Linked DNA regions of Homo sapiens: all the other regions are linked to region 3. The links come from fine-mapping of genetic effects on gene expression. A gene starts in region 3. Each other region holds a variant in brackets. All regions are shown on one strand. Distances are from middle to middle. Region 1 overlaps SHROOM3 (shroom family member 3). Region 2 overlaps SHROOM3 (shroom family member 3). Region 3 holds the start of SHROOM3 (shroom family member 3).

Region 1 (8,296 bases), 270 kb after region 3:
GCATTTGGACAAACTTCCTGCACTTCTTTGAGTCTGTTTCCTCATGAATAAAGTAGGGACTAATAGCAGAAAGTCACCTGCCTTCAAGGTTGGCTGTAAGGATGGTAAGAAGCTGTGCAGAAACAGTTTGGCCCCCAGCCTGGCTCAGAGCACTCCATAAGGTAATGGCAACTTTGAGGACTGATGCTTGGATACCTGCCCTCCCTGGGGCATGCGACTGGGGGAAGCAAGTGTCTACACCGACTGTGTAAAAGTGAATGACAAGGAGAGGGAGGCATGCTGAGTGTGGGCTGCTCTCATGGTCTCTTTTCCCAGGACTTATGGCGTGTATGTATATATTTATTCAGTTAATTTTGGCTTTCTTCCCATTAATTTATAATTCCACAAAGGGAAGGATCGTGTCTGTTTTGCCACGAGTCCAGTGCCTAATCCAATGTGTGGCCTGTGGTTAGCCCTTAGCAATAGTTGATTGAATGAATGGATGATTGGGCTAGGTATAGATGTGACTAGGCTCTGGGTTTCAGCATGAAATATCTTTTTTTTTTCTTTCTTTCTTTCTTTTATTTATTTATTTATTTTTGAGACAGAGTCTCACTCTGTCACCCAGGCTGGAGTGCAGTGGCATGATCTCAGCTCATTGCAACCTTCCTCCACCTCCTGGGTTCAAGTGGTTCTCATGCCTCAGCCTCCTGAGTAGCTGGGATTACAGGTGTGAGCCACCACAACCAGCTAGTTTTTGTATTTTTAATAGAGATAGTGTTTCACCATGTTGACCAGGTTGGTCTCAAACTCCTGACCTCAAGTGATCTGCCTGCTTTGGCCTCCCAAAGTGCTGGGATTAGAGGCGTGAGCCACTGCACCTGGCCTTGAAATATCTATCTTAATATATCCTGCATCATTTCAGCAGTGTGACCGGCGCTAGAAAGTTCTTGTAGGGGCAGGAATGCTGTCTGGGTGTCAGGGGTAGGGACTTCATCATTTCTCTAGATCTAGGGACAGTTGGACTTGAGAGAGGGGTCTCATCTGAATTTCAGTCAGTCTACTTTCTTCTTCTGAAGCTTCCCCTTTAAAGAGGCTTTTGGTATTAAATGTTTGCTACTGTATCAATGGACTTTTAGGATCACAGAATCCAAAGGCAGTATGGAACAAGAGAGCTTAAAAATTAGAGTATGAGACCCTGCTGTGCCAGTCGTGTGGCTTAGAAGTCCTGACCTTGAGCGAATAACTGTCCCTCTATGAGGCTGTCTCTGCATCTGTTAAATGGGGATAAATAATACTTGCTTTACTTGCCTTTTAGGATTATTGAGGGCCAAATGAAATAATGTTTGGGAAGTGCTTTATAAGCTATAATCTGGTATTAAAGTAATGAATAATGGTTCGCTGTAGAGATTTGTATTGTTCTCTGGGAACACTAGTCTGTTACTGTAGGCTAATGATAGAGGATAGGGAAAGAAAGGCCTAGACTGAATTTTTTCAGGAGGTATTTGTCTCTCTCTACTGATACTAGTTTCACAGAAACCCTGCTTCTTCCTCCACTGGCTATTTTCAGCAGTTATTGGAGCTCTCAAAGTAATCCCCTTCACCAACTAGTGTGGAGTCTTTCTGCTGCCCACATATGCTCTCAGGATAGGCACTTCCATTTCCTAGAGAAGATGTTCCTTTAAAAATGTAGAAAATTTAGACCCTTAGACTCATTCTATTAAGAAAAAATAAGGCTAATTTTACTATTATCTGATAATTAAAATAATAAACATTAATTGTAAACAATTTGCAAGACATAGAAAAGAGAGAAGAAAAATAGTACCCATAATCCTGTCACCCAGTAGTAACATTTTGGAATACTTGCTGGTGTTTTGTTTTTATGCATATGTTTTATCTCATATGAATAACAAAAGAGTGATGTGGAAAAATTAAAGGCATACATGGTTTGATATGTGGTTGATACCTACCAAAGTATACAAAGCCCAGTAATCCTAAAAGGAATCTAATGGGGTAGGTAGTGGAGAGGGTGAGGCCTTTAGCCATAGCTCTTTCTACTTTTTAATTTAATTTTTCTTTTCTTCTTTACAATAAGGATGATTATTGCCTCAAATGATAAGAAGATTAACTGAATTACTGTTTTTAAAGCACAAATAATCTGGTACATACCATGTGCCCAGTAAATGTAAGTTTCAGTTCTACGGGTAAAAATTTAATAATTATTGCCAGGCACTGTTCTGATTGCTTTATACATATTAATTCATTCAAGCCTCACATCTACCCTTTGATGAAGGTGCTATTAGTATTCTTATTTTATAGGGGAAAAAACAGGCATAAGAGGTTAAGTGACCTGCTCAAACACCTTCCTAGGTGACAGAGCCAGAACAGGACCCCAGGCAGCTGGCTCCGGAATCCACATCGTCCATATACATTACACAGCCTGCTGCTTGTTGGAGTTGTCTTAAGATCTAGGCTCTGAGTGCTTGTAGCTAGGGGCACACCGCTTCCATGAAGATATCATCTGTTCACTATAAAGCCCTTGTGAGAGCCCTTGGTTTTCTTATGCACTTGTCCTGGGCTACTAGCTGTGTCAAAGGGCTCAGTGGGTAGAGGGACTGATGTCAGCAGTAAACTGAAGCAGATTAATATTTATTAGGCAGGTTAAAAGATTTGGCAGGTCATTTGGCTTTTTCTCCTATCCACCCTTTCCTCATCTTTCTGCAAGGTTGACATAGAGGTCATTGGCTAAGATCTGGAGATAATTAAGCTTACGGTTTCAGAAAGAGTCAGAAATATGCTGAATGTTACTGGGGTATATTGTACACCTGGATTTGTTTGGCAAGTTTCAGGGGGAAATCAAGTGAAAAAAAGCAGCAGCCAGAGCAGGAGGTGCAAATGGACAGAGGTTTGAGACATACAAAGTGCATCTCTGCAGAGCTGAAGGGTTATGTGTGGCCCTCCTGTAATAAAACAAGCTGTAGACCAGGGTAGGTAAGCAGAAAGACAGGAGGAGGCTTTAAGTACAAATGAATGGCATGCCTATGACTAAAACACTAGATAGGATACAGGCCTGAGGGCATGCAGAGGGAGCTTCCTAGATGGTAAATAATGACTTAAAAAGGAAAAAAGATGAGTAATGAGAGGACAGGACCCAGAAGGTTAAGACTTAAATGTGTAAGTTACAAAAGGTCAGTAACAGGAACAAGGGGGCCTTTTAAAGAAAGGGTAATTCATTGAGATGTCTGTGAAACGGCTGATCAATGGTCAGTTATCAGAAAATGAAGAGCACCTATGTTTGGCTAAGAACAGAAATCTGTGCCTGAGGGCATCACTTCTTAAAATCTTCTTCAGACACTGAAAAAGCTTCTAATCTAAGGCCTTTTCAGCCTCCTGGAGACTCAAGAGAAAAAGTGCTGAGAAACCTACAACTATGGCATTAGAGACCTGCAAACCCAGGAGAAGGGGGATGACAGGATAGAGATGCAATAGTAAGGCTAACTTCATGGATGAAGGACACAGAGTAGAAGGAAAACTTGAAAACCAAGAACGTGGCTTTAAATAAGACAAATTGCCACATGAATGAGTGTACACACCCAACATAAATCAAAAGGAATTTCTCCAAAGGATTCTGAGGACAAACTTAGCCCTGTATAAATGCATCCTGTCTACTTAATCACAAAAAGCATTCTGATTGCCTCCAAACATAAGGCAACAAAATTGCACTGAGCCATACCAGCTGTTTGTCGAAGGGGCTCTGCCACAGTCTCCCAACTCCCAACTTTTCTTGTCTGTCCCAAGAAAGCCTGCCGCTAATGAGATGGATCAAAAGTTAGGGCTAGATTCTATTTTCAAGAAGAAATCAACTCAGAGCCTGATCTAGAAAGTAACTAGAAGAAAAGAAGATCCCACATTTCCCAAAATAGATATTATGAACAGTTTAATGCCCTTATGGATTTAAGGACATAGAACTTTGTTTTGGATGCATTACAATTATTTCCTTTACAGGTTCCTATGATTCATTCAGCAAATATGCATTGTGTGCCTACCAGGAGACACTCACTGTGCTAGGCCTTGGGTGTGTAGAAGTTTCAAAAAACAAGGCTGAAGAAAAGCCAGAGGTGGACCCTGACCTGGCTGAGCTTATGTCTTAACAACGAAGCAGACAATGCACAAGTGAACAATTTCATGTGGTTATAAGTGCAGTAAAGGGAAAGATCAGGTGCCAGGAAAGAGTATTTGCATTAGATAAGGCAGTCTCCGAGGAGGTGATGTTCCAGCTGGGAGCAGAAACTAAGGAGTGGTCAGCCAAGAAATGAATTGGGAAGAATATTCCAGGCTTAGAGAACAGCATGTGCAAAAAGCAAAGAGCTTGGCAAGTTTGGGGAACCTAAGGAAGGCCAGTGAGGTCAGAATGCAGTAAGGGGAAAGGTTGAAGGAGGGGCAGGAGCCACGTCACCAGAGACCTTGCAGGCCAAGTAGGGGAACCTGGATTTTATCCAAAATGCATAGGGAAGCTACAGGATTTCAT[C/T]AGGGAATGACATCATCCATTTACATTTTTTGAAAGGCTGCTGGGTAGACACTGGATTGGAGGGGACAGAAGTGGAAGGGGGAGGCCAGTGAGGAAGCATTCCCTCCTGGATGAAACATAACAAAAAAGGAGGAAATGGCTGATTCTAACAGACAAAACCAAGCACTTCCCTAAGGTTGTAACAGACCATGCCAAGGAGACACGATTCCTCCATCTCACCCTCCCCTTTAAGGATAAAATAGAAAAATGCAAACTCAATAGAAACCAGGAAGCAAAGGGACCTGGAGAGACCATGCCTAATGGCTCAGTTCCGTGTCTTTTACTCCAGTTTCCCCAGCCTTCCCTAATTTGTACAGTGTTCAAGAGAGCCCTAAGGAACTGAAAGATCTGGAACCCTTTCTTTTGTATTGGCTGAAACTCAGTTCAGAAAGCAGTTAATGGGTACTATTAAAATACCAAATAGGTTGGGCATGGTAACTCATGCCTGTAATCCCAACACTTTGGGAGGCCAAGGTGGGTGGATCACTTGAGCCCAGGAGTTTAAGACCAGCTCAGGCAATGTAGTGAGACTCCGTCTCTACAAACAACAACAACAACAACAACAACAACAAAACATTAAAAATCAGCCTGACATGGTGGTGCATGCCTGTGATCCCAGATACTTGGGAGGCTGAGGTGGGAGGATCACTTGAGCCTGGGAGGTCGAGGCTGCAGTGAGCCAAGATTGTGCCACTGCACTCCAGCCTGGGTGACAGAGCAAGACCCTGTCTCAAAAACGAAACAAAACAAAAAGCAAATAAGAAAGCAGTCAGTATATATTCTGGAGTTATGAATATTGGGTGGCAGGCAGAGCAAATATGAATGTCCTCATCATGGGAAGTAGAAGAAATATGTGGGTGGCTGGCCTGGCTTTCTTGTTTAACTATCTGGAAGAAGAAAGATCATACTACAGTATATTTTTTTAGCCTCTGCTAAACTTTCTCAGGTCAGCTTTGATTCCTAGCTCTTCACTCATAGTGGTAATATTGAGATATAGATACTGGAGAACAGCAAGAAACATAAACATAAAACAGCTCCAAGAAATGTCTTGTTAGTTTTGCCAACAAGTTAACTTGTGAGTTAAAAGGATATAGGAGGGAAGAAAGGCTGCAGATCTGTTGAACATTTAGCAGTACAGTCGACCCTTGAACAACACAGGGGGATTGGGGATGCTAACCCCCTAGAGTCAAAAATCCATTTACAACTCTTGACTACCCTAAAACCTAACTACCAATAGCCTACTGTTGACTGGAAGCCTTACAGTTGATTAACATATTTTGTATGTCATATGCATTACGTACTGTATTCTTTCAACAAAGTATGCTAGAGAAAAGAATGGTTTTTGTTTTGTTTTGTTTTGTTTTTTGTTTGTTTTTGAGACGGAGTCTCCGTCTGTTGCCAGGCTGGAGTGCAGAGCTCAGCTCACTGCAACCTCTACCTCCCGGGTTCAAGTGATTCTCCTACCTTAGCCTCCCGAGTGGCTGGGATTACAGGCATGTACCACCACGCCCAGCTAATTTTTGTATTTTTAGTAGAGATGGGGTTTCACCATGTTGACCAGGCTGGTCTCGATCGCTTGACCTCATGATCCACCCACCTCGGCCTCCGAAAGTGCTGGGATTACAGGCGTGAGCCACTGTGCCTGGCCGAAAAGAATGTTATTATGCTAAGAAAATCATAAGGAAGAGAAAATACGTTTACTATTCATTAATCAAAAGTGGATCATCACAAAGGTCTTCATTCTCATTGTCTTCATGTTGACTAGGCTGAGGAGGAGTAAGAGGATGGGTTGGTCTTGCTGTCTTGGGTGGCAGAGATGGACGAAGAGGTGGAAGGGAAGACAGGAGAGGTGGATACAGTTGTTTGAAAAAAATCTGCGTATAAGAGGACCCACGTAGTTCAAGCTTCTGTTGTTCAAGGGTCATCTGTACTTTATTCATTCAACAAATATTTATTGAGCAACTCTCTGTTCCAGGCACTAAGCTGAGCTGGTTTATCTTTGTTGACCTGTGGAAGAGAGGGACCAGCAAGCAGGCAACTAGCAGCCAGTGTGAATTGCACTTTGAGGTGTACATCTATAGCCAGTGTGCTGCACTGCTAGCACACAAGGGGCCACCTCACCCCGACTTCCACAGTTCCTCTGGGTAGCCAGCAGAGGAAATGATGTCGAAATTGAAACCTGAAGGATGAGTGTGGATAAGCCCGGAGAGGATCCTTTAGGGATCTAGAAGTAGCCCAATAGGCCTGGAGAGTGTATAGTTTATCCCAGTATGTTTCACTTGAACTGGATTCATTGATTTCCAGGCTTCTACAATGTATCGTTGGTTATCTTTAAGTGAGACATTGTACCTTTTAGTATCTTTTAAGTAAAAATGGGCTTATTTGGTAATATGTTTAGTTAATGGCTCTACCATCACCATTCCCTACCAAATCTGGGTTAGTAATTGTAACGCCTACAAAATCTGTGGCATAAATTGAACATTTTTGAAACCTGCCAAACTGAAAGGAAGGAGAGTGAGTGGTTGACAGTCCGAAGGGAATATGATTCCATGTGTGGTTTGAGCAAATTTACATAACTTCTCTGTATCTCAGGTTGTCAGTCTGTAAAATGGGACTTAAACCCTCATTCATTCTCTCCTTCATAAAAAAGTTGTGGGAATAATATCTGGCACATGGGAAAGCACACTTTTTTTTTTAAGAAAGACTTGGCAAATTTGCCTGAGTCGTGTATAACCATTGGCGCACCAGTGGGGCACCATTCCCCGATAAGATCAAAGCACATTGCAGACTTTGTCTATGGCAGTCTGTTTTGAGGCTAAGTAGCAACTTGAGGTGGGTAAGAAAATGTGCATTCTAGAGACAGCATGAGTTCAATGTACAGGTAAGGTATTCAATGTACAGGTAAGGCAGAAGGAAGGAAGGGCAAAGAAACAATTCCAGGGCCCTGGTTTCTGGGATGACAGGCTTCCCAACACTCATGCCAGGACTATTTTCCACCTCGGTTCACTATGGGTTTTTTTTCTTTTTTTTTAATATAATGAATTTTTAAAATGTGTGTTTGTTGCCCAGATTATTCCAGAAAGAGTTGAAGGGAGGAAAGGTGTGCTTGGTGTGCTGGTGATTCTAGCACTCTCTCCAGCCTGATTTCTAGTTTGTGTGGTGCATCCAGACAGCTCACCCAGGTGCCCAGGCTCTTTCTGGTATCCAGAGCCAACCCATCCAGGGCAGGAGGGTGAAGATTAGGAGGGGCAAAGGTTAGCCTGGAGGTTGCAATTAACAAGAATCAAAATGGGTTTCAGGATTCTCACACCCAGTTGCTAATTTCAGCTGGTCCTGTAGAGGTGACACGTAGTAGGACAACATGGTTTTGGGGGCAGTGCTGGGGTGCTGGTCTCTGCTTTTCTAGGGTAGAAAGGAATCATACATTGAAAATGCTTAAATCGATGGAATGATTTTATGTTCCTCATGCTTCCATCTCTTTCTGGTCTGCCTGCTCTTCCTGCCAGCCCTTCACTGTGACAGTCACCACTCCTAGACCTCTGTCTCTAGGCATCTCCCAGGAAGGAGAAGTGGAAAGGAAAGAGAAAAGAGCTCAGTCTCTGGTGCCCAAGACATTGTGCAAAAAAAAAAAAAAGATGGAGTCGAAAACTTTGGTTTACACAAAAAATTAGGAAGTTATTAAATACTACAAAGGTTTTATGAAAGCTCAGGCCTGGTCTTGATTGTTTTCCCCCAACAAACAAAGTTAGG
Region 2 (8,218 bases), 260 kb after region 3:
AGCGGCATTCACCACCACCTGCATCTCTGCTGTGACTTACACTGAGAAGAGGGCATGCTGAGAAAAAGGATGGTTATTTTCCTTGTAATGCGAGCTTTTTTTTTTTTTTTTTAGCTGTGAACTTTTTACCTTGCTTCATTCATGCTTCATTTGATCAATTACTAACTGTATAGCCTCTGAAAAGCGAGCGCGGGCTTCTTAAAGTTGATATTTTGCTTTTGGATTCCTCTGCATTTTACAACGGGGGGAGGTTAATTAAGGCACCTTTCTGATTGAATGGGCAGAGGGACTGAGGGTGTGTGCTTCGGTCCGGTCCCCTTAATACCGTAAGGACCCAAGGACCGCGGAGGGGCGAGTGGAGCGCGACGCTTCCACCCCAGAATCCGTTTTCAAACCTTAGGGAGCCTTCTTTGCCATTGAAATGCAAATCCGGTCCTGAGCTCCCGGGCCAATCCGGGAGGCTTCCTGTGGGATTACCTGGTGGCGAGCGAGCGCCGAGCCAGCGCCGAGCCAGCGCGGCCCCTCGGGTGCGGCGGGCGCGGGGTGGACTGAGCGGGCCCGGGCGGGACGAGAGGTGGGCGAGCGCCCCGCACCCTCGGCGCGCCGCGCGGGATCAGCGTCCTCCAGCCGCGCTGCCCCGGCCCACCGTGCAGCTGTAGCCGCGGCGCGGTGGCGCGGTGGCGCAGGGCGCTGCTGGGCCGCCCATTGTTGAGCGCGTTGGGCCCCGCCGGCGATGCCGCGCGCCGCCTCCTCGGAGCGGCGGCGAAGTTTGAACTTGGCGTCGGCCTGGAGCCCCGAGCAGCCCGGGGGCGGCGGCCGCGAGGCGAGCGGCGATGGTGAGTGAGGAGGGCGGCTGGGCACGGAGAGGGAGGCGGGGGCCGGCCGGCTGCTTTCTGGAGCGCGTCTATTTCGGGCTCTGCGGCGACTCTGGAAAGCCCTGTCTGGAGGATGGCTCCCAGGGGCTTTCACGGCCAGCACCCCGGCTGATGGGGGCAGGTGGCGTGCTCCGAGGGTCTCCTGACACTCCTAGGCCTTGGCTTTTTATCAGAGAGGCAGTAGCTGCCACTCCAAGAGGAAAATAATTGTTGATTATTGACAGCATGAAAACTTTTCGGAAGAAATGATCTGTGAAATATTTTAATTTTGATAAATTGCTTCCCACCAGGGCCCCTGCTGAGTTGAGAACTCCTTGCCTTTCTTAATTTTACTGGATTTGTTTCTGTAGGAAAGGCTCCTGAAGTGCGTTGAGGGGCACGCCTACCCCCAACCCCCACTTGCTCCAGATCTTAAGACAGTTACTTAAATAGTGTGTTCCTTGTGCTGCAGCAACACTTAAATCATGAAAATGAAATTCTACCTGACGCTCGCTTTACTCCGAATTGCCAGAGGAATAAAACTTTTGCTGGTGGGGGAGGGGAGTGGTTACAAAATTTCAACACCTGGAGCACTCTCTGGGGGTGGGATGTATTTCTCTTCCTCTAGGATGTATTTTGGCATTACCTTTTTCCCCTCTCCCTTTAAATAGTAGTGTTGTTGTGGCGCACTGTGTGCACGGGAGCTTCTGCACTGGGAGCAAATGGGTGCCCTGCATGCGGGTCATCTCCATGGAGAGATTGCTGTGATATCGGGGGGTGCAACAGGAAGTCCTAGCACAGAGGCTGCCAGAGAGAGTTCTGTGCATTTTCTGTTTTTAATTAGTTGTTTTAAAGCCTAGTTAAATGTCCGTTTCCAGTTAAAAGCACCCTGGTCGGATATATGGCTAGATCTTTCCCCCAAAAAATTTCACCAGAAGTTGGTTTACATTTTAAATTTATTTTGATGGTTACCTTTTTTTTTCTGATTATAAAAATATTACACAATCGTTGCAGAAAAGGTGTAATATACAGAGAAAGAAATAAACTCTTATAACAACATCTATGTTTTGTTTGCTAAGACCTAGTTTTTCACAGAATCCTAGTCATTTGAAAACTTTTCAGCTATGGACTTTTTTTTTTCTCCATTGCTAACAATCCTGGTTTAGGAACTAAAGCTAGGAATTGACAAGGAAATAAACTTACTTAAAAAAATGTTATAACCAACAATAACTTATTCACATTGCCCATGAGTTGGAACAGAATTTATTGTGGCAATTTCTCTTGAATCAACTTCCCACATCTGCTCCCAGCAAATGGTTTCTGTTTGTACAGCCTATTTTGTAAATACATCTCTCTACCATTAAGGCGAGGTGCCCAAACACATACCCCTTTCCAGTGCTTGTGGCTTGGCTCATATGGTTAATATGTTTATTGGCTTCTGCATCAGAACTTCCTCACCATACATTTGATAAAACCCTGGAGAAGGTTACCAAGGGATGTTGTAGAGAATTCACTTCCCTGGAGATTTTAAGAATAGGATAAACATCCATCTGCCTAGGATGGCTTCAGTGCAGTACTGTCTGGATAAAGGAAGACTAGGTCACTACTCTGAACCTCAAAATTGAGGAATTCTAAAATTTGTTTAGAATTCCTCAATTTTGACCTGGGACCAGGTCCTCTGTGACCTGGGACCAAAGCAAATTAAGGTTGCCAAAAGTACCTGAGCCCAGTAGGAGGTGGAGCCCTGTTTTGATTTATGTGAAACAAAGTTCTTCTTTTGGTAACAGATACGTTAAATTATTCTTAGGAGTTACCAATCCTTTTCTATTATGGATAGAAAATCAACAATGATTTAACTGCTTTCTGGGAAGGTATAGGTGAATTACAGTATAAATTCTGTGATTTTAAAGTAAATGAACTGATTCATGGGAATTAAAAGTTTTGCCTGAAAGGTGGGCAGGGTGTGTGTGAAGAGTGTGCCTGAGTTTTCTCCACTTTTAACCTAGTGTTATTTTTAGAATCCTGTCTTATGTGTTAAATCTGGTTACATTTTTAAAACATCAACATTCTACTGTCTCTTCAATGTTTATTCTTGCTTTCCCTTTTCATGCAGAACCCATACAGACCTTTGACCAAAATCAATTATTCTTGTAAGTTCTGTTCGAGGATGTTTCCCTGGAGTCCAGCAGTGCTGAGGTTTTGCTGGTGACTTCCAGAAGGTCAGGATTTCATGGGTTGCCGCTTCTTCTGACTTTCTGTTTGACAGAAGTATCCTGTAATTCTAACCACTGTGTGACCTCAATTGCCTTGACACCTTCCTCCCCTTCTGTAGTATCACTTGAACAGGAGCTGTTTCCTCCTGCAGGATCACTGAGAGGGGTTCACTTTCTAGGGAAGGTCATGTCAGAAAGAAGATTGGGAGGTAGAGCCTGGTGGCTGGGCAGTCTTCACCTTGCCTGAATGAGCAATGCCTCCATTTCACAGCCTTCAGCTTGTGGGATTTCTTCATGCATGTCAGAAACTAGTTTTCTTATGCTGTTGTAACACCCAAAGAAGGAATAGGGGCATGAACAATGGTCATTCATTTATTCAGCAATCATTTACTGTGTGGGAGGCATCCCAGGAACTGGCGATGGGTTCCCTGCCCTCAGGAACTCGTCTTATAAGAGGCAAAATAAAACATGTTAATAAGCTAGTGCCATTCTGAAGGTGTAGAGTACAGGGGTTAAGAAATTAAGTTTGTTGTAAAGTTAAACATACACCAACCTA[T/C]GACCCAACATTTCCACGCCTAGGTATTTACCCAAGATAGGTGAAAACAAATGTCCACCAATGACTTGTACAGAATGTTCATAGCAACCTTATTTATAATGACCAATACCTGGAAACAACCCTACATCCATCAACAGGAAAATGGGTAAAGAAACAGTGGCACATCCATACAATGAATACGACTCAGCGATCAATGGGAATGAACTCTTGATACAAAAACCTGGATGAGTCTCAAGAGCACGTTAACTGAAAGCAGCCAGATACAAAATAATAATAAGCAATTCTATTCATGAAGTGCTAGAATAGGCAAAACTAATCTATGACAGAAGTCAGTGGTTGCCAGTGGGTAGGGACTGACTAGAAAGAGATAAGAAGGGATTTTCTGGAATGATGGAAATGTTTTATGTTTTGTTTTTCGTGATGGTTTCATAGGTATACACAATTATCCACACCCATCGAACTGAACACCTAAGACCTGTGCATTTTATTGTATGCAAAGCATTACCTGAATTAGAAGAAAAACTTAGGTTCTAGAGTTACACAAGAGTATACATCCCACATCTGCCTCTAGGCATATATTACCCTGGACAAGATATTAAATAAATACCTCTGAGCTGCAAGACATTGGACAATAATAGAACATCTTCATAGGGTTGTTGCAAAGATTGAGTTAATGACTGAAGGTACTTAGCTTAGTAAGAACTCAGTAAATGTCAACTACTATTTCCAGGCACTGTGATAAATATAATATGTGATTTTGGAGTTGATGAAAAAGTATTTACACTTTTGTGAAAGCCATATCATTTAAGATTATCAAGGATCTTATATTAACTGGTATCCTTATCATTATTACTATGCATACCTTCATTTTGATAAGTTTGTTTTTTTTTTTTTTTTTTTTTTTAAAGCAACAAGACAGAGTCTTGCTGTGTTGCCCAGGCTGGAGTGCAGTGGCACAATCTTGGCTCACTGCAGCCTCCACCTCCCGGGTTCAAGCGATTCTCCTGCCTCAGCCTCCCAAGTAGCTGGGACTACAGGCACATGCCACTATACCCAGCTAATTATTTTTGTATTTTTAGTAGAGACTGGGTTTCACCATGTTGGCCAGGATGGTCTCAATCTCTTGACCTCGTGATCTGCCTGCCCCAGCCTCCCAAAGTGCTGGGATTACAGGTGTGAGCCACTGCACCTGGCCCTTGATGAGTCATTTTTTAAGGTTGTGGGGATTTAAAATGTGAAGTTCTTGTGTACGTGATCAAAATACTACTGGGGTTTGGTTTTGCCAGCAGAAGTAAACTCCAAAGAGAGGAACTACGCACTAGGCAAACTCCTTTTTTTTTTTTTTTTTTTCCTGAGGACTGATCTGAGGACTGATTTAATGATGATTGTCGAAGCTGAGCTCCCAGATGAGGCTCACAACATCTTCTGGGAATCCAAATGAAAGGTTAACATACTATATTCTCTTCCCAAAGATGTAGGTAGAAAAAAAAAACAAAACTCGATCTCTCTATCAAAATTAACGTCATGCTTTTCAGTAAAATGCTTTGGACAGAGTGGTAAATTTATAATAGTTTATTTAATCTATTAAGCTTCAGTGATTTAATTTAAGTTCAACAAAGCATTTGGGAAAGATGTTATATATTTTGCCAACTCCAAGTGAGGCATTTTGTTGTTGGGTTGGTTTAATTCATTCAGTAAACATTTGTCAAACATTTACTGAGAACGCATTAGCCTCTGGGAATTCAATGATGAATAATAAGACATTGTACCCTCAAGGGTTCATAGACACTCCAGCCACAAGTGTGAATGTGTACACATTTCTTTTGGAATTTTTCTCAGAGCAGAGAGGTCTGTCTCAGGCTAGTCTTTTTGTTTGTTTTTTTTTGTGTTTTGTTGTTTGTTTTAAAAGCTCCTGCTTACAGTGGAGGTTTAAAATCCTAGTTCTTTTAATTGATGTTATTTTCTTAAACATTGGCATTTCTCATTAAGGCTTCACTTGTTATTCCTTACTAAAAATAGCAAAAACAAAATGGTCTTATATAAAGGCAATTGAGTACAGTGGAAAGGTCAGAGACTGTGCAAGTAGAATGACCTACGTTTGAATCTGAGCTCTGCTACACTAGTAATTTGGAGAGTCCTTTAAGCAGCTGTTTCCTCATCTGCAAGATGGTGATAATGATACCTTAAGAGAGGTATTAATATTTATTAGGTTAAGGCTGTTATAAGGATTAAGTGACAGAATACATGTAAATATAACTAGGCTGGCACCTGATAGGTGTTAATTCCTAACATTTATTGAGTACTTACTAGGAGTCAAGCACTGTCTAATACGTTTTGTGCTGGCTGATTTTATCTTCCTCACACTCCTATGAGGCAGGCACTGTTACTATCCCCTTTTAAAGGTGAGGAAACCAAAATCATAGGTTAAATAACTTGCTGAGGGCATGGAGGTGCCAGGGTTAGTACCCAATACCATCCTGTCAATTAATGGATGAGGTCTGTAATAGATGTCAACTATCTTTCCCTTTTAGATATGATTGTTTTATACCAATAAGTGGAACTAACTAGTGCCCTGCTTATGGCTGCATGCAGATTAATACTGGTGGTGGGGGATGGTTGACTCCTTGAATATGTTCTTAAATGGTTAATGGGTCTACCACCTTTGGGGGTTTGTGGGATGCTTGTAGGAAAGGCTCTAATGAACATGTCTTTTCTTTTCCCAGCCCCTCACAAGTCCACCTGTGAGGTGGTCCTCTCTGACATTGTCCGTTGCTCCTTACCCCCAATGACTCCAATTAGGAAGTCAGTCGACTTATTTGTGAACAAAAAATTGGAGAATCATGGCTGCCTATTAGAATTTGACCTATGCTTTGTGAGGTCTATGTAGGGATGGACATAGATGCAATATTTTCTTGGTCTCCAAAAAAATAGCAAGGTAAGAAATGTGCCCCAGAGCACTGTTACAGTAAGAAGAAAAGTCTACCATTGATCCTGGATATTTCATATTTCCTATTTCCATTGGCATTTTCTCAACTCCCAGATTCTGGAGAACCTTGAGCTAAAACTTAAATAAAAATAAGTTCCAAATGGTACGTTGAAAACGCTGCTGATTTAATGAAGACGAAGTCACCTTGACCAATTCATTAAAATAATGTATAGATGCCCAGGGGAAAATGTAATTAAATAAATATGGATCCTAGTATCTGTTCCTATATGAGCCTTTTCACTTAGTTTCTCCCCCAAAGTCCTGAGTGTCGTGGAAGATACTCTGGATTATTGGTCCTGACATCAAAGCCTCTCCATTGCAGTGTGGAGTTAACTAGGCAGCCAGAATCTCAGGACCATTTCCTCAGCCACTCAAGTGGTGCCACGTTGGTCTATTTCCAGACCCATCGAAGAAGCCCCTCAGCATGCAGAGACCTTTGGAGACACTGGACTGAAACCAGATGGTGCAGAAAGAAGCCCCTAAGCAAAGTGTTGCTTGCAGCCCTGTATTTGAAAGAGTGCCACTGTGTACCAATTATGTCCATCCAAATGAGCCGTATTATTTTGGGGCAAAATGACTGGGAAATGAAATTATTAGGACTCTGCTCTCTGATGGGGAAAAAATAAATCTGGAAGAAGAACCTACAAGGATCTTAGCTGTCTGCTTGTCTCTGACACTCTCGAGGCCTTGTGCCAGGCTGCTTTGCTGTGCAAAAGCTCCACTTCAGTCTTTTAGTCTGACTCACAATAGACGCACATGGTTGAAGTTAGGAGAATTGCAGGACTGTCACTTGAAGTCCCTCTCAGCCTCTTCACCATCGCCCCCAGCCTCTTTCCCTCTAACATTAAGCCCTTTGTGTCGGTTCCCATGGTTACCTCCTCACTACTGGCAGCTGGAATGTGATAGTGAGAGGAGGCTGCCTCCCCTACTGAGCCAGGTCTGGCTGGGGCGGAGGCCATTGATCCGCAGCTGGATTTGTGAAATGGGGTCACAGTCCAGTACCTTCTCTTTGTCGTGGGTTCTATACCTTTCCCAGGCTTGACATATCAGGGTTGCAGTGGGAGGGGACATGGTGGGTGATGGACTGCTCACAGGACATGTCCTGTCATAGGCTGGCCTGGCCTGGCGTCCCTGACCTGCCAAACTCCTCCCTGAGGTCACCCTTCCATGTGTGAATGCCCATTGAGGGGGAAGGGGCTGCTCTGCTTGGTCAAATAAAAATGATGACTCACTTCTCTACCTGCTTTCTGCTCAGATTCTGTTCCCAATACCATCTGTTCTTAAGTTAGTCAACATTAACAAGGGTGGGCTCCAGTCTGGAAAGAATTTGCATCAAAGGCATGTTTTCACATCCAGCTTGGAAGACCAGGCAGGCTCTGGGAACTGGGGGATAGCATAGGGATTCAAGGTTCAAGATGAAAACAAAACTAGCCGAGAGGTTTTTGTTGTTGTTTTTATAAGAGACAGGGTCTTGTTCTGTTGCCCAAGTGGGGTGCAGTGGTGCAATCATATCTCACTGCAACCTCGAACTCCTGGGCTCAAACAATCCTCCCATCTCAGCTTCCTGAGTAACTAGGACCACAGGCACATGCCACCGCACCCAGCTAAT
Region 3 (8,296 bases):
GGAGAATCACTTGAACCCGGGAGGCAGAGGTTGCAGTGAGCCGAGCCGAGATCGCCATTGCACTCCAGCCTGGGTGACAAAGTGAGACTCTGTCTCAAAAAAAAAAAAAACCCTATTTATTGTCTACAGTTAATTTACTTTACCGATTAGTGAGCCAGAATAGCCAGTAGATGTCGCTCTGATTTCATTTTCAGAGATAACCTACTGACTTTTCAATCTCTTAAATATTCCATCTAGAAGCATTTTTAAAAATCCAATAAGTTGACAATCACATTAAAAGTTTTAGCAAAAAATAAAGAGAAAAACATTAGGGCATACTAAGAAAAATTAAAATCAAGAAATGGGAATTTTCAAAAGATCAACTTAATTTTTCCTTCAGTGCTGTTAACAAATACAATGATGTGTGATTGCTAAAAAGTCAAAACAGTGATTAGGAAGATGACATTTAACAGACTGTTTGGTGTAGGGATGCTAAACAAGTGGTAGAGTCAATATGACTGATATATTTTTCTGTTCTGGGGCCATATTCACAATGACAGCAATATGAGCTCAATAACTCACAGTGGGAATTTTTCGTATAGAGACAGAAAATAAAGTTGTAAGCTACATTGGATCTATTTGTCATGAAGGGAAGAATCTGATCAAGAAAGCAGGAGTAATTCTAAGTTAGAGGCAGAAGGAAGGAGAGAAGTAATAGACAGAAAAACACAATGTGAAGCTTCATTTTTGGTACTGTGCTAAGCTTCTCTAAACTTTCTCCCAAACCAGGAAAAACCACGAAGGGGTTTCCTTGTGTATTACTCTGAACTCTTTCAGTTGCAAGAAGCAGAAACTCAACCCCCGCTGGTTTAAGGAAAAAATAAACAGGTACCTATGGGGTCATAAAACTGGTAATTGTAGGAGTGGGGTGGCTTTAGGCCTGGCTGCATCTGCTTATGGTGGCCTAAAGCCACCCCACTCCTACAATTACCAGTTTTATGATCCCATAGGAACTTGGAAAGTTAAGGGTCTTCAGGGTCAAAACTGCTTTTGTAATAATACTAAGACATTGTGTACCTTTTCCACTTGCTCTCTCAAAAATGTATAGGGGAATCTTCCAGTGGCTATATGCCATGTGATATTGAACAAATTGAATACAGAAGCAGATGGTAGAATCCAACCATCTTCTACTAACCTGGCCATTAAAGAGAGTTGCAAATATGTGAAACAGTGCCACTCTTCTTGGTAATATTTTTTGTTTGAGACAATGTAATTATTTTTCATAAAAATATTAATATGTTACTTTAACATATAAAGATTTATTATTTTTAAATGAATTAATACATAAGTATTTTAAAATGTTCTTTTCTATTTTCTAATATAGTAAATATTGATCAATACAAAACACATAAAATTTATCTGGAGTCTTCAATAATTTTTAAGCATGTAAGGGTTCCTGAAACCAAAAAGCTTGAGAATTGCCAGCTTCAGTAAGGTACAATTGGGCACAAGGCTCAATGGTATCACCAGAACTGTCTCCCCCTTATCATAGACTGCTTTTCTCAGAGCTGGTTTCCTTCTCAGGCGTGTGATATCAAAGATGACTTCCAGCTGGGGCGTGGCAGCTCACACTTGTAATCTCAGCACATTGGGAGGCTGAGGCGGAAGGATCACTTGAGCCCAGGAGTTTGAGATCAGCCTGGGCAACAGAGTGAGACCCTGTCTGTACAAAACAATTTTTAAAACTGGCCAGGCATGGTGACATGCACCTGTAGTCTCAGCTACTTGCGAGGCTGAGGTGGGAGCACTGCTTGAGCCTGGGAGATTGAGGCTACAGTAGGCCGCCATCACACCCTGCATTCCAGCCTGGGCGACAAAGCTAGACTCTGTCTCAATTAAAAAAAAAATAAAAAATAAAAAAAGACTTCCAGCAACTCAAAAATTTTATCTACCAACCTAGCAAACCATAGGAGAAAATGCCATTTTTTGACAGCACTAGTAAAATTTCTAGTTATAACATTGGTCACACTTAAGTCTCATGCCCATCCACATATCAATCATTTGAGCCAGGGGTTGGTTGATTCCTGGGTCATTACGTCCACCCTGGAGCCGGGGACAGGGGCAGCCCACCAGCACCACAGGATCGAGGAAGAAGTGGTTCCCTAGAAAGATGATGAATGGGGCATAAAAGAAGTCCTCTATTAGAAAGCCTGAGTCCTATGCTGTTCTCAGTTAGAATCCCAACCTTTCTTTCCACTGTCAGCACCTTGAGACAATAGAGTTGCCTTTCTCTTCTTGGGGAGGAGTCTGATTGCATTCTGTAATTAAGAGTTTGCATCCAAATCACATATCCTAACAGAAGTTCTTCTTACGAATTAGCAGTGCTATGCCAAAAGAAAGTTGTCTTTTCACCGTAAACTATGCAGAACACCTGACTTAAGCTAGGATTTCATTCCTAAACGTCTGAAGATTTAAATTTCATGCCTGCCTGTGTTGCTTGCAGGATTACTCTGGTCAGATCATTTAACCTTCTGGTGGCCTCTGTGTCCTTACCTCTAAAATCAAGGGTGTGGGAGGATTGTCTCTTGCAGCTTTAACATTCTTTGAATCTGATCAACAGAAGATGGAGGAAAAAAGTTCTTCCAAACCTGGTCTATCAACTGCTATAGTGAAGGTCCACAAAATGAAGTTTTACATTTTTTTTTCAGATTACATATCAATTTTGGTTCTATGTTTGTTTCTTCAATATTTTTGGTGATAATCTAAAATGGAGATTTCATCAGTCTGCAAGCACTGGGTTCATATTATCTTTTCCTTATTTCCTTTGCCTTTAGCTTCATTACTTTTTTTGTTTATTATTTTTTAAATTGACAACTAAAAATTATATATACTTATGGTGTACCACATGATGTTTTGATATAAGTATGCATTGTAAAATGGCTAAATCAAGGAATTAACCTATTACCTCACATACTAATTTTTTTTGTGGTGAGAGCACTTAAAATCTAATCTTAGCAATTTCCAAATATACAATACATTGTTATAACTATGGTCATCATGCTGTACAATAGATCTCTTGAGCTTATGCCTCCTAACTGAAATTTTGTATAGCTATGTTACTTTTAATATTAAATGTGGATTCTGTAAAATCCCAGTTTTTACAAAATGTATTAGGAGTAACATAATAAGAGCCTCATAAATTAATTTTTTCAGAAAGAAAGCTGTTCATTTACCTAGGACTTTTATTTAAAATACATATGTTCTTTGAAATGAAAGAAAAGCTAATGTTTCTCCATTTATTCTAACTTACAAATTAAGCTGTAAAAGAAAACCACAATAGAAATTGCGTAAATTACCCTTAAGAATCAGCCAATTTTTACCACATACTTTCATTTGGTACACCTTAGGTTTCCTTATGTTTCCATTCACATACTACCATTACATAAGGTTTTACTTTTTTTTTTTTTTTTTTGTCTTTGAGCCCTTCAAGTGAAGTTACCATTGAAAATCAAACAATACCTGTCCAGTGTTGTAAATTAAATATCGTGTAGTTTGATATCATATACCTGCCTTTCCATATCAGCCTTTCATTAATTATAAGTACAAACACCAAAATAATTGTTATCAAGCCCCACAGTAGTTTTTAACTTCAGTTTTCAACTTAATTCTCATTATCCCATACTTTTAAACAGAAAAAAGTTTTAGTACATATATTACCTGGAAGTAATTCTAATCTGTTCCAATAACTAAATAGCTGAGGCTTCTGGGTTAGATATGGTTATCTTCTACTGTTCAAATTTTTAATACAAAGCATGAATGTTAAATTTGTATATAACATTATTACAAAATGACACTGGTAACATGAAATCAGAACAACATTCTTTCCCGAGTACCTAGTACTTACCCACAAGGCATTGTAGATTTCTTTTCATTTAAAGAGTGGATAACAATCTTGGAGTAGATAACAATGAAAACCTAGAAAAAAAAACCCACCTCCTGTTTTTATTGAGTCAAACAAGCAGAACTTTGATTGGAAAGTCCCATTTCATATATTACACTGGTAGTATTTTCTTCTAACGAAAAAAAAAAAGCCCTTGTGCCACCACCTTGACATGTACTTAAACGTTTACCCAAATCACTTAGGCATTGCTTCTCAAACTTGGCTGCATAGCAGAATTGCCTGGAGGGTTTTTAAAAACACAAATGCCTATGTCTCACTCCCTGAAATTCTCCTTTAATTGGTACGAGGCGGGGCTATTCTAGGAACTATTTTCTATCCCTTGGCAATTAGCCATCTGTATAGTATTTTTAACTTCCTACGTGTTATTAACTGTAAGACTGTTTGAATTGTCAGGTCTTTGTGGTGAGCTGAATTCTGCATGGCAGTGCTTACTGTGCAGAAAGGTTGCAATGCCTCACTTTGCCTTAATCCATGTTCCTCTAACTTCCTTACTCTTTCTCTCAAGAGGAGGCAAGTGGCTGTGGCGGCCGCAGCAGTGGCTGATCATCACTGAAAATACCAAAGAAAAGAACTGAGCTGCCTCCTTCATATTTTTTCCATTGAGGATTAATTTACCGTGCTTTTTCATTTTCTCTACATCCTGCAAAAGTTTTTTTCTCTCCTAAGAAACAAACTATGAACTGATTGTTGAAAAAAAGAAGTAAAAAGTTTTAGCACAGCTTCTCTGTCTCTTCGGGACAAGTTAGAAAATTCTGAAGTGAGCCGAAGCATAGTAAGTGCTTTCTTTCTTTTTAAGCTACTTCTGGGGAGGGAGGAGGCTATTGTAATGGTAAATTTCACTCCGAGAGGAAGAAAGGGTTGATAATCAATCAAAAATGAGGTATTCCTTTGAGTATTTGTGATTTTCTTACTATATTGTAAGATGCTTTTAATTTTCTCTGTAAAATAGGCAGAAATGGTTTTAGTGTGTGTATGTGTGAAATAAAAGCTCAGAAAAGCAATCTTCAGAGCGCCACTGAAGGAAGTTTTGACGAACGGAGTAGAGATGTATACCACTTGGGGGCTTCAGTGAGAACCCAGAATTCCTGGAGGAGGATTTACATTCAGAAATGTTGAAGTGAAAATTCCTTCTGGTTCAGCATCTTGGAGTTCAGCTTGGAAGAACATTTTACGTATGGAAGAATTTGCTTCTCCAAACCTCTCTTTTGGCCATTGTGTGTCCTGAAGGATGGGACAACTTGTGCTGTAGAAGCACTGCTTGCCTGAGTTTGCTTCAGGCATTTTAAATTTAACTTGAGGGATCATGTGTTTGGCATGATGAGGACCACTGAAGACTTCCACAAGCCTAGTGCCACATTAAACTCTAACACGGCCACCAAGGGAAGGTACATTTATCTGGAGGCATTCCTGGAGGGAGGAGCTCCCTGGGGTTTTACTCTAAAGGGTGGCCTGGAGCACGGAGAACCATTAATCATCTCTAAGGTATGTTTCTTTTTCCAATATTGCCTTTATTCAAATTGTTTTTTTCAACTTGTCAGATTTGTCAAAAATGCAAAATAATGAGAACTGCCTTAATATAACTTAATTTGCTGTTTCATGCCTTTCTGATTATCTAGAAATATTTTGGATAGCCTGGGATTTGAAAGAAAAATGTGTCTAGCTCATTTATTCTATGAAATCCGAAGAAAAATATGCCTGTTTGATGGATAATCTTCTCTTTTTGTGAATGAAATCGCATACAATCAGTTACCACATGAGCTTTTCAGTTATAAATCAGATTAAAGATTAATAACATGGTTAAGATGGTGGCATGGTATATATTTGTGCATTCAAAAATATCTGCTTTTTCTCTCTTCAACTGAAAATAGCATCTAAAAATATTTTAAGTTTGCTTATAATTCTGGATAATAGATTGCATAAATACCATGTGTTGCTTTTTTTCCCCACACTCAGAAAGGAGAATTAAATCAGCTTTCAGCATAACTCAAGATCAAAACATTTCTGCCTCTCCTATTTATCTGTATATTTGAATCCCTTTTTAAACCTTAGTCATCCTGCAGCATACCTCAATTCTTCATTTATCTTTTGGTGTGGGTAGTCATACCAATGAAATATTTATGTACTGGGGTTAATATTTCTATTTTTCTCTTAAACTACAGATTAACATTACTTGTTATAATATTGCTTTTAAATTTTTAGAGTATTTAATAGTCTGATACAATAGATTATAATGGCTTTTCACACATGTGCATTCATCAAGAAACATTTGTAATTAAGGGAGAAAAAATTTTTAATTTGAGGGTGGGAAGAAGGTAATATGGATTGCATTTGAGCTCTGTTATTGGTTCAGGTTACTTTTCATATCCCCAGAAATAATTCCAAAAGGTTATTTTTCAAATTACTGAAGTAATTCTTACTGTGGATGAGCCAGGGAGAACTGGGTTTCACAGTGATAAGCCACGAGTGCACGGGACACCATTATAAGTTGTATGACTTTTCCTTAACTTTCTTAAGTAAAACAAAAGGATGTGCATATGTGTGTGTCAGTTAGGAAGGCTTCCCCCTGTGAAAAAAATTCAAAACCGAGTTTATAGTGGCTCTCAGTAAATTGGGGTTTGTTTTTCTCATATTACAAGAAGTTTGGAGGTAGATTTTCCAGGCAAGGGGAGCAGCAGCTCAATAATGTGATCAAGGACCCCACTTATCTCTCCACTCTGCCATTCTTATGATGTTGGCTTTGTCTTCATGGTTGCATGATGGATCCCACAACTCCAGCATTGATTGCATCTTCATTCCAGACAGGTTTTTGGCTTTTTGTTTCTCATTAGACCTTTGCTTTCATCTCATTAACCAGAACTGTACCCTGTGCCTGTCTTTAGGCCAATCACTGGTAAGAAATGCCAGTGATTAATACAGACTGATTAGGATTTCTTTCACAGGTTTCTACAATAAGGACCTACTCTTCCTGAAGTCAAGGAATCATTGCCCACTGTTTGAATGATTTGAGGTTCTTTTTGCAGGAAGAAAGAGGGCATGGTTGCTGAATAACAGATAATTCTGCAATGAACATAAATATTGTCTCGGCATTTAAAAAGTCTAGTTGTACACAATTTGCCTGTCCCTTAATGATAAAATATTCTGTATCTATACACTACAGTATCTGACAGTTTGCTGACAGAAAGGTCTAATCCTCCCACTAATGAGCCAGCTTCTCTAAGCCTCCATTTTACCTGCAGAATGGGGCTATCCTACTATCTACTTTAATGGGTTGTGTTTAAATGCAACCATGCATTTAGGTTAGTGTCTAGTACACAGAAGGAGCAAAGATTATGATTATTGCTTTTCATTATTCTAGCAGACATGTGTAGTAGGAGACAGGTCTGGCTGCTGTAAAAAGATCCAAAATAACAATAATATAGGAATTTATTTCTCTGACATAACAGTCTGAGCATAAGCCAAACCAAAAGATGGCTCTATGATGTCAGGGACCCAAGTTCCTTCTATTTTCTTACTTCCATCCTGGAGTGATATCTCATCTTCATGGTCCAAGTGACTTGCCACCACATCTGCTTTCCAGTCAGTAAGAAGCAGGGAAGAGGGAAAAGAGAAGGCAATCTCCTTTCTTTCAAGGATCCAATCTGGTCCAATGTGCTCTGTCCAATATGGTGGCCCACAGTCACATGTGACTATTTCTATTTCAATTAAAGGTAACTAAAATGAAGTAAAAAATTTTAAACTCTGTTTAAATGTTCCTCATTTGCACTTGTTGCATTCCAAGAGTCGTACTGTTCCGAAGCTCTTGAACATCTTCCCCCATGTTGTCTGTCTGGCAAACTCTTTAAAGCTCCATTTCTTCTTCTCTCTGAGGTTTTCCTGATGTCACCCAAGTTGAGTTCCGTGGTCTCCCTTCTACACTTCCATATTATGCATGTATTACATTGAATCATAAAATTTTATTTCGTTGATTGCCTTCTCAGAAGTCTGTGAGCCTTTTTAGGGCAGGGACTATTTTTTTTTTTTCATCTCTATCACATCTAAATCAGAGCCTAGGTACACAAATGTTTGTTGAGTATATGAAAGGGCATGGCTGTGTCTTACTCATTTTGCATTTTCAGGATCTAGCACAGTGCCTGGCACAGAGTAGGCACTCAATAACTTTTACTGAATTAATAAGCAAAAGACCAAACAGAACCAATGAGGATGCCAGGCAGACCTCCATGTGGGGCATGTATTAGTTTCCTATTGCTGCTGTAACAAATTACTACAAACTTATGGCTTAAAAACAACACAACTTACAGTTCTGTAGGTGACACACCTCACACAGATCTCACTGAGCTAAAGTCAGTGTGTCAGCAG

Evidence for each region. PIP is the estimated chance that this variant, and not a neighbour inherited with it, causes the effect.
Region 1: its variant is fine-mapped to the expression of SHROOM3 in iPS cells (iPSCORE, PIP 0.90).
Region 2: its variant is fine-mapped to the expression of SHROOM3 in nasal epithelium (TOPMed, PIP above 0.99). The same link has a PIP of 0.9 or more in pancreas.

Annotation. Positions count from the first base shown.
Region 1 is chr4:76,700,219-76,708,514 of GRCh38, forward strand. The region is part of intron 2 of SHROOM3 (shroom family member 3); the gene reads left to right. Among named protein-coding and RNA genes, the nearest start is that of SHROOM3-AS1, 98 kb to the right of the region's middle. The variant C/T (reference allele first, on the strand shown) is at 4,508.
Region 2 is chr4:76,688,867-76,697,084 of GRCh38, forward strand. All of the region lies in intron 2 of SHROOM3 (shroom family member 3), which reads left to right. Among named protein-coding and RNA genes, the nearest start is that of SHROOM3-AS1, 110 kb to the right of the region's middle. RefSeq lists an enhancer at 195-717 and a silencer at 631-810. The variant T/C (reference allele first, on the strand shown) is at 3,624.
Region 3 is chr4:76,430,799-76,439,094 of GRCh38, forward strand. It overlaps SHROOM3 (shroom family member 3), which reads left to right and starts at 4,431. Exons shown (of 11, transcript NM_020859.4): 1 at 4,431-5,422. The coding sequence starts at 5,255.